Linked DNA regions of Homo sapiens. The protein of the gene in region 4 interacts with the protein of the main gene of each other region in a pairwise test. Each region holds a gene or a part of one and is shown on either strand. Other genes may lie near its edges.

Region 1 (3,500 bases), on a different chromosome or scaffold from region 4:
CCAGGTTTGGTGGCACACACCTGTATCCCCGGCTTCTTGAGAAGCTGCAGTGGGAGGACTGCTTGAGGCCAGGAGGTCAACGCTGCAGTAAGCCACGATTGTGCCACTGCGCTCCAGCCTAGGTGACAGAAGGACAGCTTGTTTCAAACACAAAACAAAACAAAACCCTTAGATGTAGGGTTGGGAAGGAGACGGGTGAACCAGGGATCATTATGGTGTCGCTTATATGTGATACAATGTCTAAACCAAGTCCACTCATAGTGGCCCACAAATGTTCAGATAGTAAATATCTGTTGGTTTTACCTGCCCTCCATCAATTCCCACTTCTGGGGAATGACAACTCCCCTAAAGGGTACTGGCTGAGTGAGGCAATAACCAAGGCACCTGCTGGGACCCAGTATGGGCCTGAAAGATATACTCTCAGTAGAAAGTGGGATTAAAAACTGCTGGAGAGGTTGGCCCTCCTGTATCCTGAGAAGACTGTCTACTGAGTCCTGCTACCTGGATCCCTGAAGCTGCTCTAGATCTGGTTCACTCTGAAGCCTGATTCTTTGGCATTGTTGTCACCACATCCCTCCAGTAATCTCTTTATGTTTAAAGTAGTCAGATTTAGTTCTTACTGCTTACAACCAAAGATCTCTGGCTGATTAGCTGTTATACTGTGTCTAGAAGAATTGCATTTTCTTAAAAATTGGGGGGATAAAATTTAATTTGATTGGCAAGTAATTAAACCATGAATTTCACATTGAAAAGGGATATATTATAGAGTAGAATACAAAATTCATGTAAAATTTTAAGATAATGGATTTTGAGATTTTAAAAACTACGCTTCCTCCCACTTCCCACCCTTCCTCTCTCCCTCCCCCATGCAAGTTCTTTAGTGATGGGATTAAGAAACACTGGTATAGACATAAATTTTCCTTAACTTTTAAGATCTGTCCCTAACTAGATAAAAGCTCTAGGGCAGGTTACTTAACCTTTCTAAGGCTCACTTTTCATACCTTTAAAATGGGATAATACTACCTACATGTAGAGCTGTTATCCCAAGAGGTAACACAGGAAACCATTTAGCACTGTTCCTCAGAACAGAGTTTTATCAATCATGGCAAACAAACAGAGTTTAGTTACTATAACAAAAGCAGGTTGGCACATATGTTGATGGCTGCAACAATTCCCTGTAGGCTATCCTGTGCAATATGACTTGGCAGCATTTGCCATCAAGAGGGGGTATCTTTGTCCAACTCCTAAAATTTGAGTTGGCCTTGTGACTTGCTTTGACTAGCAGAATATGGCAGAGTGGTACTGTGTGACTCTTAAGCTTAAGCCTCCAGAAACCTTGCAGTTCTCACCCTCCTGGAACAAAGTGCCTCCACCTGAGGAAATTTGATCTAGGCTGCTAGAAGATGAGATTATGTGGAGCTCAGAGAGATAGCCCAGCTTGACTAACTAGTTCTGACTCAAGACTTAAGAGGACTGCAGCCACATTAGTGACCTCAGGCCAGGCACTACCAATGGAGAACTGCTCTGCCCTAATTATGAGCAAATAAAATGGTATGTGTTTTAAGCCACAAACTTTTGGAATGGGTTGTTAACAATAGATAACTGACAGACATGCTTCATGAATTATCGTAATATTTCTATATTTTATAGTGTATTCACGTCCTAAAGTTTCCTATAACAAACTCTAAGGCCCAAAGTCCACAAAGAGTCACTATGTCACAGCCAGATGTGGTTACGTTTCTCATTCGTCAAGGCTAGATCAATGTTGCTAATTTCATATAAACAATGAACTGTATCTCCACCAGAATGTGGGGCATAGGAGATAGAACATACTCCAAAGCCAAAATAACTGAAGTGAAAATTTGCTAAAATTATCATAGTTAAACCACAAAGATGCAGGTGCAAATAAAGGTGAGTTGAATTTGAAGGTAACTGGCTAAGGAAAAAAAAGGAACAATTTAATTGATAATTAAAGCATTAAATTATAATCTGTTTTTTTTTTAAATTTAAAAACAAACCAGATTATAATAATGTTTAATAATCAAAATTATAGTTTTAGATTATAATTTAATAATTAAAACAGATTCTCCCCTGTAACAATTCTTGCTCCTGGCATTTTCTTCCATATACTTCAAAGATGACTAAAACCCTATTCTAAAAGTTCCATCTTATACATAGTCTCATTATATACCTTTTTTTCTATGAATAAATATTGACTGCATCATTCTTTTTAAAGATTGCAGCATATTCCACTACATGGATAGGCCCTAATTCACTTAATCCCCTATCCATAGGTATTTAGATCACTTTCTATGTTTTGTTATAAAAAAAGGACAGGTGAGCAATCTGGTACATACATCTGTGCATACTTCACCAACTGTTTCTTTAAATTCCTAGATGTGAATTTACCTTTTTTTCTTTTTTTGTAATGACTTTGGGTTCATATTGCCCAAACTGTTATCCAAAAGATACGTAGCAAATTTACTTTTTTTAACAAGAAGGAAACCCTTAAATGCTAAAAGTAAGAACACATTTTACACCTCTAATATCTATATATAAAATGGCAAACAATTTTTTAAATTGCATTCTATATCTAAAATACTGAGTCATGCCTCTTATACTGTATTTACTGTACATTTGGAGGGGGAAAAATCCTACAATACCCAAATAATCTCTAGTGGTTTTATTTTCAGCACAATGTTGTTTTGAAAAGGTAAACTCCAAAAAGAGTGTACTTGCTGCAAAATAAGCAAATCAGTAGAGAATGTTGAAAAGCAGGAAACGAAGCAAAAAATAAACCAATCAGTTAGAGCAGTTATCAGGTCACCAAATCTGCATCCTTACACAATGGCCAGGAGAGAAAGGTAGAGGGAGTGAAAAGGTGAAACTAAAAGAAGCAGCCCTCAGAGCTTCAGTGATGGCCGGATGAAATTACACACAGACATATATATCTACATGCTCTGTACACACCAATCCTAGAGCTAATCTCCAGGGGTTAGAACACAAGAGGAATTTTTGTGTGCTTTATAAAGCCAAACATATCATGCAGAAAGGGAATAGGGAAGGCCAGGATACAGATTTCCTTTAGGAAAGAATGTCTAGTTAGCAGCTTGAGAGGCCAGTATTAATTACTTCCCTTCCACGGCAAAGAAGGATTAATAGGAACATTAAGCAAAAGACAGCTCCAAAAGCACTGATTCCCTTCAAAAACCATCACATCTGAGAGGGTCCAATCATCAAGCTCTATAAAAAAATGGGCAAGGTGAGAACACTTAACAATAAATAAAATTAATTGGTGACAGAATCATGCATGTGCTAAGGCGGCCACACAATATGACTAATAAAAACTTATTGACTGAAGTTTCATCCTATCCAAAGAGATGAGGCATTAGATCAAACTGCCATACCAAAAGCAGAGTATGCTAAATAAAACAGCAGTGTGTGAGCACACACACACATACGTGTGTGTGCACATGTTGGGGGTGGTTGCTTGGCAATGC
Region 2 (2,651 bases), on a different chromosome or scaffold from region 4:
CCTAGAACTCCCTCTTGCTCCAACTTCCTCAACTTCTGTTGGCAATGATGTCATGTCTTCCTTCTAACTAGAAACTTTGTTTTCTCTCTTAGAATTACCTCTCTGAACAGGACTTTGTGTCTGTGTTTGGCATCACAAGAGGGCAATTTGCAGCTCTGCCTGGCTGGAAACAGCTCCAAATGAAGAAAGAAAAGGGGCTTTTCTAAAGCAAGAAGGCCTATACCTATTGCAAGGCCACAGAAAAGAGCAGATAGTGCCAATATCAGGAAATAATTTATCCACCAATTTCTGCCTGACATTCAGCTACTTAATTTAGATATAATAGAGTCTGCAAATCACGGCATGTTCTCCATTTTTTCTCATCCTTGCATTCCTTGCTTGTTATATACCTAAAATGTTAACCATATAGTTTTTGGGTTTTGTGGCCCTCTAGCTAAAGCCTCAGCAGAAAGCACTAAAACTGCATAAATCTGGAGAAATCAAAAGAAAGAGAACCAAAAAACAATGCTTAAAATGTTTAATAACTTTATGTTTAATATTATACCAGGACCTACCTTTGTTTTCAATTTTAAGATGATTATTTCTAAAATCTATTTAGCCTGTAAATCATTGAAATCATATATGCACTCCATAGGCAAAATCCAAATACCCAGATCTGTAATGTGTCAAAGCATTTTTCACTTTTCAAATAAAGATACCTATAATGAACAAATGGAGTTATTTTCAGTATTCTGGGTCTGCTTGTTACGGTAATTTTATGTTATACTTGAAGAAATGTTTCAGTACTGGGGAAGTAAAGAGGCAATGTTAAGTGAGCTCTCTGGGTAACTGGACTACTCTAATTTCTGTTTCTGGCACAAGAATGTCAAAATCTGCCTTACAGCTGGCCAGGAAACCTCAGTACCCACCCACCCACACATCATCCAAAAGAGAAATAGGGGCATGTGTTATTAATTTCATTAAATGAGGCCAGAACCAGTGTGTCTACCACTGCAGAGCACCTTCAAAGCATACTACAGACAATCACAAAGAAGAGAACCCACATTTTCCAGACAACTCTAGGTTTGAATCAATAATCCTAAAGAAATCCATGTGGCACAAGTAATATAACTAGGGAGGTTCCGAGGCAGAAGCACGGTTCACAGTGTCGCAAAGCAAAAACAGAACAAAAGAGTTCTATGTCATAAAAGGTGTAAGACAGAACATATAAGTTAGAAATTTCAGAAATACCATAATAAATCTATGTTGAAGGGAGCAGCAGTATTGTTGATGCCTGTTCTCCACGACACTATCACGTCAATAAGGCCCACCTGTTGTTTTTGAAAGGCACAGAAAAGCTAAATCCAGTATTACGCAAACAAGGAAAAAATTATTTTTATTATACAACTATTTAATAATTTTACCCATGCATTCTCGGTCTGAAGAGGTTTGGGAAATATTCCTTTTTGTAATGATGTCCAGAGCTAAAAGTAAATATTCCTCCTGGGCCAAAAGTCTCTGGAACCTATTCAGTTTCTGCTGCCTCTTCACCTTCTCCACATTCAAACCGCACAAAGTCTACTACCGACACCCCCTGAGGCTGCACATACTGCCCCAAGGTAATGGAGGGATCCAGCAAATACGGCTGGGACAGCATCTTAGTCTCTGCCTCTCCCCCAGGCTCATCGTCCAGGGAGCCAACAGAGAGGGGGGCCATGCCCACCACATGCTGCCCAAGGCGGCGGCCAACGTCTTCAAGGTTTGTTTTCTGTTCAGACGTCTCACAGATGACCAGGGCCCCATACTTCCCCAGCACCAGCTTGTGAAGTGAGGGACTCTGCATTGCTCCGTGGACATAAGAGCCAACGTAGAACCCAGATGGCACCTTCACCCATGCAGCTCGTTTAAGAATCATGTTTTCTCCCAGTTTTCCTATTAAAGCAAAAACAAAAAACCAACACACCAACAAATTGTGATGTCTGTGATGGTACCAAAATATGCACAGAAGAGGCCCAGTTTGGAAGACAGTCCCTTTGCATTTACATAGGATATGCAGTAAGATGAAGAGATACCATTTTCAGTTTTTGTAGAAAGAGGAAAAGGGGTATGGGGCAGGAGAGCGGGAGTGGGGGAAGTGAAGAATACCTTTATGAAGCACCAACTATGTGCCAGGCACTCTGGTACTTAAAAACAGGCCGGGTGTAGTGGCTCACGTCTGTAATCCCAGCACTTTGGGAGGCTGAAGCGGGTAGATCACCTGAGGTCAGGAATTCAAGACCAGCCTGGCCAACATGGATGAAACCCTGTTTCTACTAAAAATACAAAAATCAGCTGGGCGTGGTGGTGTGCACCTGTAATCCCAACTAATCAGGAGGCTGAGGCAGGAGAATCACTTGAACCCAGGAAGCGGAGGTTGCAGTGAGCCGAGATCGTACCATTGCAGTCCATCCTGGGAACAAGACTCTCTCCAAAAACAAAAAAAACAAAAAAAACAACAAACATAGGTTGTATAGGTTGTGGTGACACAAGTATGTGTGACTCAGGTCTCAGTTCTGCCTATTTACTGACTATATGACCTCGGGCAAGTGACTCAATGACATAATCTCATTTACTAAATTTATCAAGCCTTTGTTTCCTCACCTTTAAAATAGAGATGACACCACCTACCTTTC
Region 3 (3,500 bases), about 42 Mb from region 4:
CTGTCTCCCCGGCTGGAGTGCAGTGGTGCGATCTCGGCTCACTGCAAGCTCCGCCTCCCGGGTTTTACACCATTCTCCTACCTCAGCCTCCCGAGTAGCTGGGACTACAGGCGTGCACCACCTACGCCCGGCTAATTTTTTTTTTTTTTGGTATTTTTAGTAGAGATGGGGTTTCACCATATTAGCCAGGATGGTCTTGAACTCATGACCTTGTGATCCGCTCACCTCGGCCTCCCAAAGTGCTGGGATTACAGGCATGAGCCACCGCGCCCGGCTCAGTTAAATCTTATACCCAGAGAAGGAGGTAGCTACTATTCTTATCTTCATTTTATAGATGAGGAAATGGAGGCCCAGAGAGGAGTGAAATTCTGAAAGTCACACAGCCTGGAAGTGATAGGGCAGGAATGTGACTGCCTGCCCCAAAGTCCTTGCCTTTCACAACCAGGCTTTGCTGCTCTTGTAGTTTCCAATGTTTACTGTTGTCTTTCAAAAACTCTTCCTGGCATATTGTTAGGGAGAGACATTTTGTCCCTGTCACTCTGCCTCCTTCAATAACAGTAGATCTGTTAATAAGGCTGATAATAACAGTAATATTAGTAATAATAGCAAGAGTAATTAATAATCATTGGTCTTTCTTTTTTTTTTAGACATGAGGTCTTGCTCATCTCTAAAATGAGCAATGCTACTGCAATCCAACCTGGGCAACAGAGCAAGACCCTGCCTCAAAAAAAAAAAAAAAACAAACAAAACCCTAAATAAACCAACAAACTAAAGGCACAGATAATTATAAGCAAGATTTTTCACCTGTGTGAGGAGCACTAGAAAGTCATGAAGAGGAAAGGATAATTCTTTTCCATATGAGACTGTCTTGTACATGGTAGGGTATTTAGTATACTGGCCTCCCATTCTCTAAATGCTCAGGCTGGTCTCGAACTCCTGGGCTCAAGCAATCCTTTGCCTCAGCCTCCTGAGTAGCTGGGATTACAGGTGCATACCACTGTACCTGGCTTTTTTTTTTTTTTTTTTTTTTTGAGACAGAGTCTTGTTCTGTTGCCCAGGCTGGAGTGCAGTGGTGTGATCTCAGCTCACTGTAACCTCTGCCTCGCAGGACAATTCTTGTGCCTCAGCCTCCTGAGTAGCTGGGATTATAGGCGTCCACCACCACGCCTGGCTAATTTTTTGTATTTTTAGTAGAGACAGGGTTTTGCCATGTTGGCCAAGCTGGTTCTGAACCCCTGACCTCAGGTGATCCACCTGTCTCTGCCTCCCAAAGTGCTGGGATTACAGGCGTGAACCATCACACTGGCCTGTACCTGGCTCTTCATTGGTCTTTACTATACAGAGAGTGCTGTGGTAAACACTTTATTCCACCTAAACTCCCGTTTTGATCTCTCATTCCCCTGAGTGACTGACAGCCCCAGAGTCTCATCAATGCACCTTCAATTTCTTTGTCACTTTCTCGTCACTAGTCATGTCCTGCAAACTGGCCTCCTTCTGGTCCACCCCAGGGCCTTTGCACATGCTGTTGTTAGACTGAAACACTCTACTCCCTTCTCAGATTGCTCCTCTGGAAACCTGCCCTGAGACCCTGGGAGCAGTTTCTTGGTCGTATTTCTCAGAATGTCTCAGACCACTTCACTTGCAGTTGTGTGACTGAACTCACAGCATGAGCTTAGAATATAGTAGGCACTTAGTAAATACTAACTGAATGAATGCATAAACCCATAGGAGAAGATTGAAGCGAAAGAATGACCTAGAACAATGGTTTTCAGAAAACTGTTGTAGAACTACGTGGAAACCTAATAACATAATGATTGAGGGGCACTGCAGGCACTTAGAGAATGGTAGGCAGTTATACTAAATACCCTACCATGTACATGACAGTCCCATATGGGAAAGACTTATCTTTTCCTCTTCATGACTTTCTAATGTCCCTCAAAGAGGTGAAAAATCTTGCTTGTAATTACCTGTGCTTTTAGTTTGCTTGTTTGTTTGGGTTTTTTCTTTCTTTCTTTCTTTTTTTTTTTTTTGAGACAAGGACTTGTTCTGTTGCCCAGGTTGGAATGCAATGGCATAATCATAGCTCACTGTAATCTTGAACTCCTGGGCTCAAGCAATCCTCCTGCTTCAGCCTTCCAAGTAGCTAGAACTACAGGCACCTGCCGCCACACCTGGCTAATTAAAAAACTTCTTTTGTAGAGATCGAGGTCTCCTTATGTCGCCCAGGTTGGTCTCGAACTCCTGGCCTCAAGCGATTCTCCTTCCTCAGCCTCCCAATGCACTGGGATTACAGGTGGGAGCCACTGCACCTGATCCTGTGCTTTTAGTTTAAACCTAACTCTTTTACATAAGAACACAACATATTTTTTGTATGTTTTTAATATACATTGCATTTTCCTGCAATGCAACTATTAAATAAATGGAAGAAAGACTAGACTCTTTTGTATATGGAACTTTGCCAAGAGGTGTTCAACATTGTGGAACATCTTGACACTGCTGGCAACTCCCCTCATGTGGTTTGAATTGTCCACACAACCCAGAGTTAGCCATCATTTGTGCCTGTCACTTCATGGTGATTTTGTGTATGGTGTACATATCAGAATTACTTCACTATGTCCTCCAGAGTCTCATTACTCAAAATGTGGTCCCTGGACCAGTAGTATCAGCCTCATCTGGGAGCTCGTTGCAAATGCAGAATCTCAGGCTCCACTGAGTCCTTAGCCCTACGGAATTACAATTTGTGTTTTAACAAGATCCCTGGGGATTCACATACACATTAGATTTTGAGAAGTGCTGGCCTACCTCATATGTCATACAACAGGATCACTTAAACCCATCATTAAAAAAATCAATATTATGCCCTGATGGTAATATAAAAGAGGACTAAGAGCAGGTTAATTTGTAATAGGACAATGTCTACGATGTCTATTTTAATGGGTAAGTTGTTGAGTCCCTATATGCAGAATCACTATAGCATCTGCTAGAAAGTATTACAAAATGTCGTTATGAAAAAGAGGATGCTGGTTCTGAATGGATAAGTTGCTGGCCTGGAAGATGCCTCAAAAGCTTTCTAACATTTTTATTTATTTTTAAAAGGTGAGGTCTCACTATGTTGCGCAGGCTGGTCTTGAACTCCGGGGCTCAAGTGGATCCTCCCACCTTGGCCTCCCAAAGTGCTGGGACTACAGGCATGAGCCACCACATCCCGCTGCATCCAAAGCTTTGAAACTCTGCTCTCCCTTCAATTCTAACGGCCCAAAGTGCCTTTTCTTTTTCTTTATTTTTTATTTTATTTTTTGAGACAAAGCCTTGCTCTGTCGCCCAGGCTGAAGTGCAGTGGTGCAATCATAGCTCATCATAGCCTAGACATCCTGGGCTCCAGTGACCCTCCTGCCTCAGCCTCCCAAGTAGTTGGGACTGCAGGTGCATGCCACCACATCTGTTTAATTTTTTATATTTTATAGAGATGGGGTCTGCCTCTATTGCCCAGACTGGTCTCC
Region 4 (3,500 bases):
CGCAGTTCACCACCGTCTTCACCCCTTCCCTGCAGTTCACCACCGTCTTCACCCCTTCTCCGCGCAGTTCACCACCGTCTTCACACCTTCCCCGCGCAGTTCACCACCGTCTTCACCCCTACCCCGCGCAGTTCGCAGTTCACCACCGTCTTCACCCCTTCCCCACGCAGTTCACCACCGTCTTCACCCCTTCCCTGCAGTTCACCACCGTCTTCGCCCCTTCCCCGCAGTTCACCGTCTTCACCCCTTCCCTGCAGTTCACCACCGTCTTCACCCCTTCCCCGCAGTTCACCACCGTCTTCGCCCCTTCTCCGCGCAGTTCACCACCGTCTTCACACCTTCCCCGCGCAGTTCACCACCGTCTTCACCCCTACCCCGCACAGTTCGCAGTTCACCACCGTCTTCGCCCCTTCCCCACGCAGTTCACCACCGTCTTCACCCCTTCCCCGCGCAGTTCACCACCGTCTTCGCCCCTTCCCCGCGCAGTTCACCACCGTCTTCACCCCTTCCCCGCAGTTCACCACCGTCTTCGCCCCTTCCCCGCGCAGTTCACCACCGTCTTCACACCTTTGTACTGGGAGGGCCCTTCATTCCTGCCCTTCTAGCAAACTCTTAGTGCTGTAGTACTCACGTCTTCCAGAAAGTGTCCCCAGATGCTCCCAGGCTGGTCTCCCCCCATATCTGGGCCCCCTGAGCTGACCCTGCCCCACCTATTAAACCCCTCATGGCCGTATCACCCTCAGGATGGAAGCCACCATGCTCCTCGCCTGGCACTCGTGGCCCTCCCGGGTCTGCCCTGCCTTACGCTCCCCTCCCTGGGCACCTCAGGGCACCCACACTTGCCCCCCAGCCTGTGTGAGATCTTCTCCTACATCCATCAGCCTCCACTTCGCTCCTGCCAACCTTTCAAAAGAGGAAGCTGTCTCCGCTCCCCTGCCCACGCACCAGAAGCCCTAGGCCTGGCCTTGGGAGCTTCCTGTCACCTCACAGAGCTCACTGAACGCTGGCATGGCTCTAGTGCTTTCCAGGGGCACGTACTCCCCCGAGCTCCTGACAGCACAATCCACGTGTCACGCATGACCCCTCATACAGTTGCGCACCATACCATTCCCATTTGACAGATAAGGAAACTGAGGCCCGGAAAGGAAAGTGGCTGGCTGAGACTCACGGCAGATCCATGGCAGAGCCGGGATTCCAACCCAGGCAGTCTGGCCAAGGCTCACGCCCTTCACTCCTTCACTCTAAGTTTTCCCAGCAAGGCTGCCCCGGGGATGGCTGGGGGACACCTTGTGGGTGACCAGCCCAGCCTGAGTCTAGGACAATCCTGCACATGGCTGCTGCCAAGGGCCACCCTGAGGTGATGAGGTGTGCTAAGCAACCTCATCAGGGTGTCAGACAACCCTGTCCAAATCCTTCTGCCGCCCCCACCACCAGGCAGGCAGGAAGCTCTGCAGCCCCATCTCTGTCCTGCCCCGGCTGGGGGTCTCTCCTGAGGCTGGGGCTGGGGCTGGGTCACCAAGAGGGAAATAGCAGGTCGCTGGGGTGGTGGGTGTCAGAAGTCGGGGGGGTTCCCCCTCTGCACCCTCCTCTGAGGAGCTGAGGGGACATGGGGAGTCTGGGGTAAGCCCCTCAGCCCTGACACTCACGTCCTCCTGTTTCCGGGCCAGTTCCTCCAACAGGCTCAGTACTTCCTCATCGGCCAGGTCACAGGGACGCTGCCCCTGGGTCAGGGGAGGAGCAGGATCAGACAATGAAGGAGGTGCTGGGCCCTCCCCACGCCCTGCCCCTCACCAGCCTGGGCACTGGCCCTCACCGCATGGGTCAGTGAGTCCATGCCCCCGCCATGCTCGGCCAGCAGGCGGCAGGCATCCTCCACGCCCCAGTGTGCCGCTGCGTGCAGGGGAGTCCAGCCGTCCCCGTCCCGGAGCTCTGGGTCGTAGCCAGCCTGAAGGAGCAACCTGGGGGCCAGGGAGGCTCAGGGTCAGAGGCCAAGGCGGGGCCCTTGGCCGAGGGCTGATTTCGGCCAGCGGTTTGGTAACGAGGTCCCAGGCCACGAGACTGAAACGTCCCTGGACAGGCTGGTAAAGAGCCACTGCCCAGCATCCGCTGCCACAAGAGGCCCCTCTGCACCAGGCCTTGTCCCTCCCCTTGGACCAGCAGTTACATGTTAAACCCTGACCCTGCAGGTGGCCTCTGGAACCTGCTCCTGGTGCTGGCAGGGGGTCACCCTGGCTGTGGGATTCCAAGGTGGCAGCAGCGGGGTGTAAGGAGGCAGCTCCGGAGGATGCAAGTGCAGGACCCTTGCCAGCCCCCATGCCTGTCAGAAGGATGGGACCCCCAAAGGGCTGTCTCAGGGCAGTAGTGCTCTAGGACCCGGGCTGGCTTAAAGCAGTGACTCCCAACCAGGGCAATGCTGTCCCCCAGGGGAGACCCGGCAGGTCTGCAGACATCTTTGTTGTCATAACTTAGGGCAAGGGTTAGCGGCATCGGCTGGGTGGAGGCCAGGGAGGCTGCTCCACACCCGGCTGCGCTCAGAGCGCTCAGCAGCAGCCCCACAAGGAGAGGGACCTGACCCAACATGCTGCCAGCGCCCAGGCTGAGAAACCCTCACCCGAGACAGTGTTCTGCGAGAAAACAATAACCACCTTAAACCATTCAATCTGAGGGCAAAGGCAGGGTTACAAGTCCAAGGCCACTCTCCAAGCTCAGCTTAACGGTAGGACGTGTCTATTTTTGGAGAACTGGAATGAGTTTCTGTGTCAATGAGAAAGAGCTTCACAAAGTGGGAACAGATGGACAGCCTGGGATATTCTACAAAGAGGCCTTATAAGCACAAGTCCCTCTCTCTGGTCCCGCCCACCTTGCCCTTCACCTTTCCCACGCTTTGCCCGGAGCTCACCCTGCCCCAGCTGTGCTGGGCCCTCGCTATTTCCCCAAGCGTCCGCTCGCCGCTGGCCTCTGCACTTGCTGCTCTCAGCCGGGCAGTGTTCTGTGCCCTGCAGCATCTCACGCTGAGCCCCTTTTTGGCAGTCACCACCCCCTCATCCCCCTGTCTCCTGACCCCAAAGCCCCTCCTCATCACACTTGTCTTCTCCCATAACCCTATTTATATCTTAAGCCAGCAGTTCTCAACTGGGGCAATGCTGCCCCCCAGGGGACATTTGGCCACGTCCAGAGACATTTTTGGTTCTCACAACCAGGGATGCTCCCAACATCCCATAGGTGGAGGCCAGGGAGGCTGCCCCACATCCTGTGATGCATGGGACGGCCCCGCAGCAAGAGCGATCAGCCCAAAATGTCTGTCTCCCCACGAGGCTATGAGCCGCACACAGGCCCAGATCTGTCTTGTTTACCCATTTCCCTGGCACCTAACAGACTGCCTGGCACACAGCAGGGGCTCAAAAATAAGCATCGAATGAGTATCATCAAATAAACATATACCTCTACTCTGCAACAAATGTTTTTTTGTTTTGTTTTGGTTTGGTTTTGTTTTGAGACGG

The links.
Region 1: the proteins of PPP1R12C (region 4) and ATXN7 interact in a two-hybrid assay, tested with the Homo sapiens proteins (one study listed by BioGRID and IntAct).
Region 2: the proteins of PPP1R12C (region 4) and TSFM interact in a two-hybrid assay, tested with the Homo sapiens proteins (one large-scale study listed by BioGRID and IntAct).
Region 3: the proteins of PPP1R12C (region 4) and CACNA1A interact in a two-hybrid assay, tested with the Homo sapiens proteins (one study listed by BioGRID and IntAct).

Annotation. Positions count from the first base shown.
Region 1 is NC_000003.12:63,870,367-63,873,866, reverse strand, and holds part of ATXN7 (ataxin-7), read right to left. Parts: intron 1-3,500. UniProt on the Homo sapiens protein: Acts as a component of the SAGA (aka STAGA) transcription coactivator-HAT complex. Mediates the interaction of SAGA complex with the CRX and is involved in CRX-dependent gene activation.
Region 2 is NC_000012.12:57,795,437-57,798,087, reverse strand, and holds the end of TSFM (elongation factor Ts, mitochondrial isoform 2 precursor), read right to left. Parts: intron 1,912-2,651; coding exon 1,505-1,911; 3' UTR 501-1,504; downstream 1-500. Other genes in the region: AVIL (advillin), read left to right, coding at 93-206. UniProt on the Homo sapiens protein: Associates with the EF-Tu.GDP complex and induces the exchange of GDP to GTP. It remains bound to the aminoacyl-tRNA.EF-Tu.GTP complex up to the GTP hydrolysis stage on the ribosome.
Region 3 is NC_000019.10:13,293,480-13,296,979, forward strand, and holds part of CACNA1A (voltage-dependent P/Q-type calcium channel subunit alpha-1A), read right to left. Parts: intron 1-3,500.
Region 4 is NC_000019.10:55,097,138-55,100,637, forward strand, and holds part of PPP1R12C (protein phosphatase 1 regulatory subunit 12C), read right to left. Parts: intron 1,959-3,500; coding exon 1,814-1,958; intron 1,722-1,813; coding exon 1,647-1,721; intron 1-1,646. UniProt on the Homo sapiens protein: Regulates myosin phosphatase activity.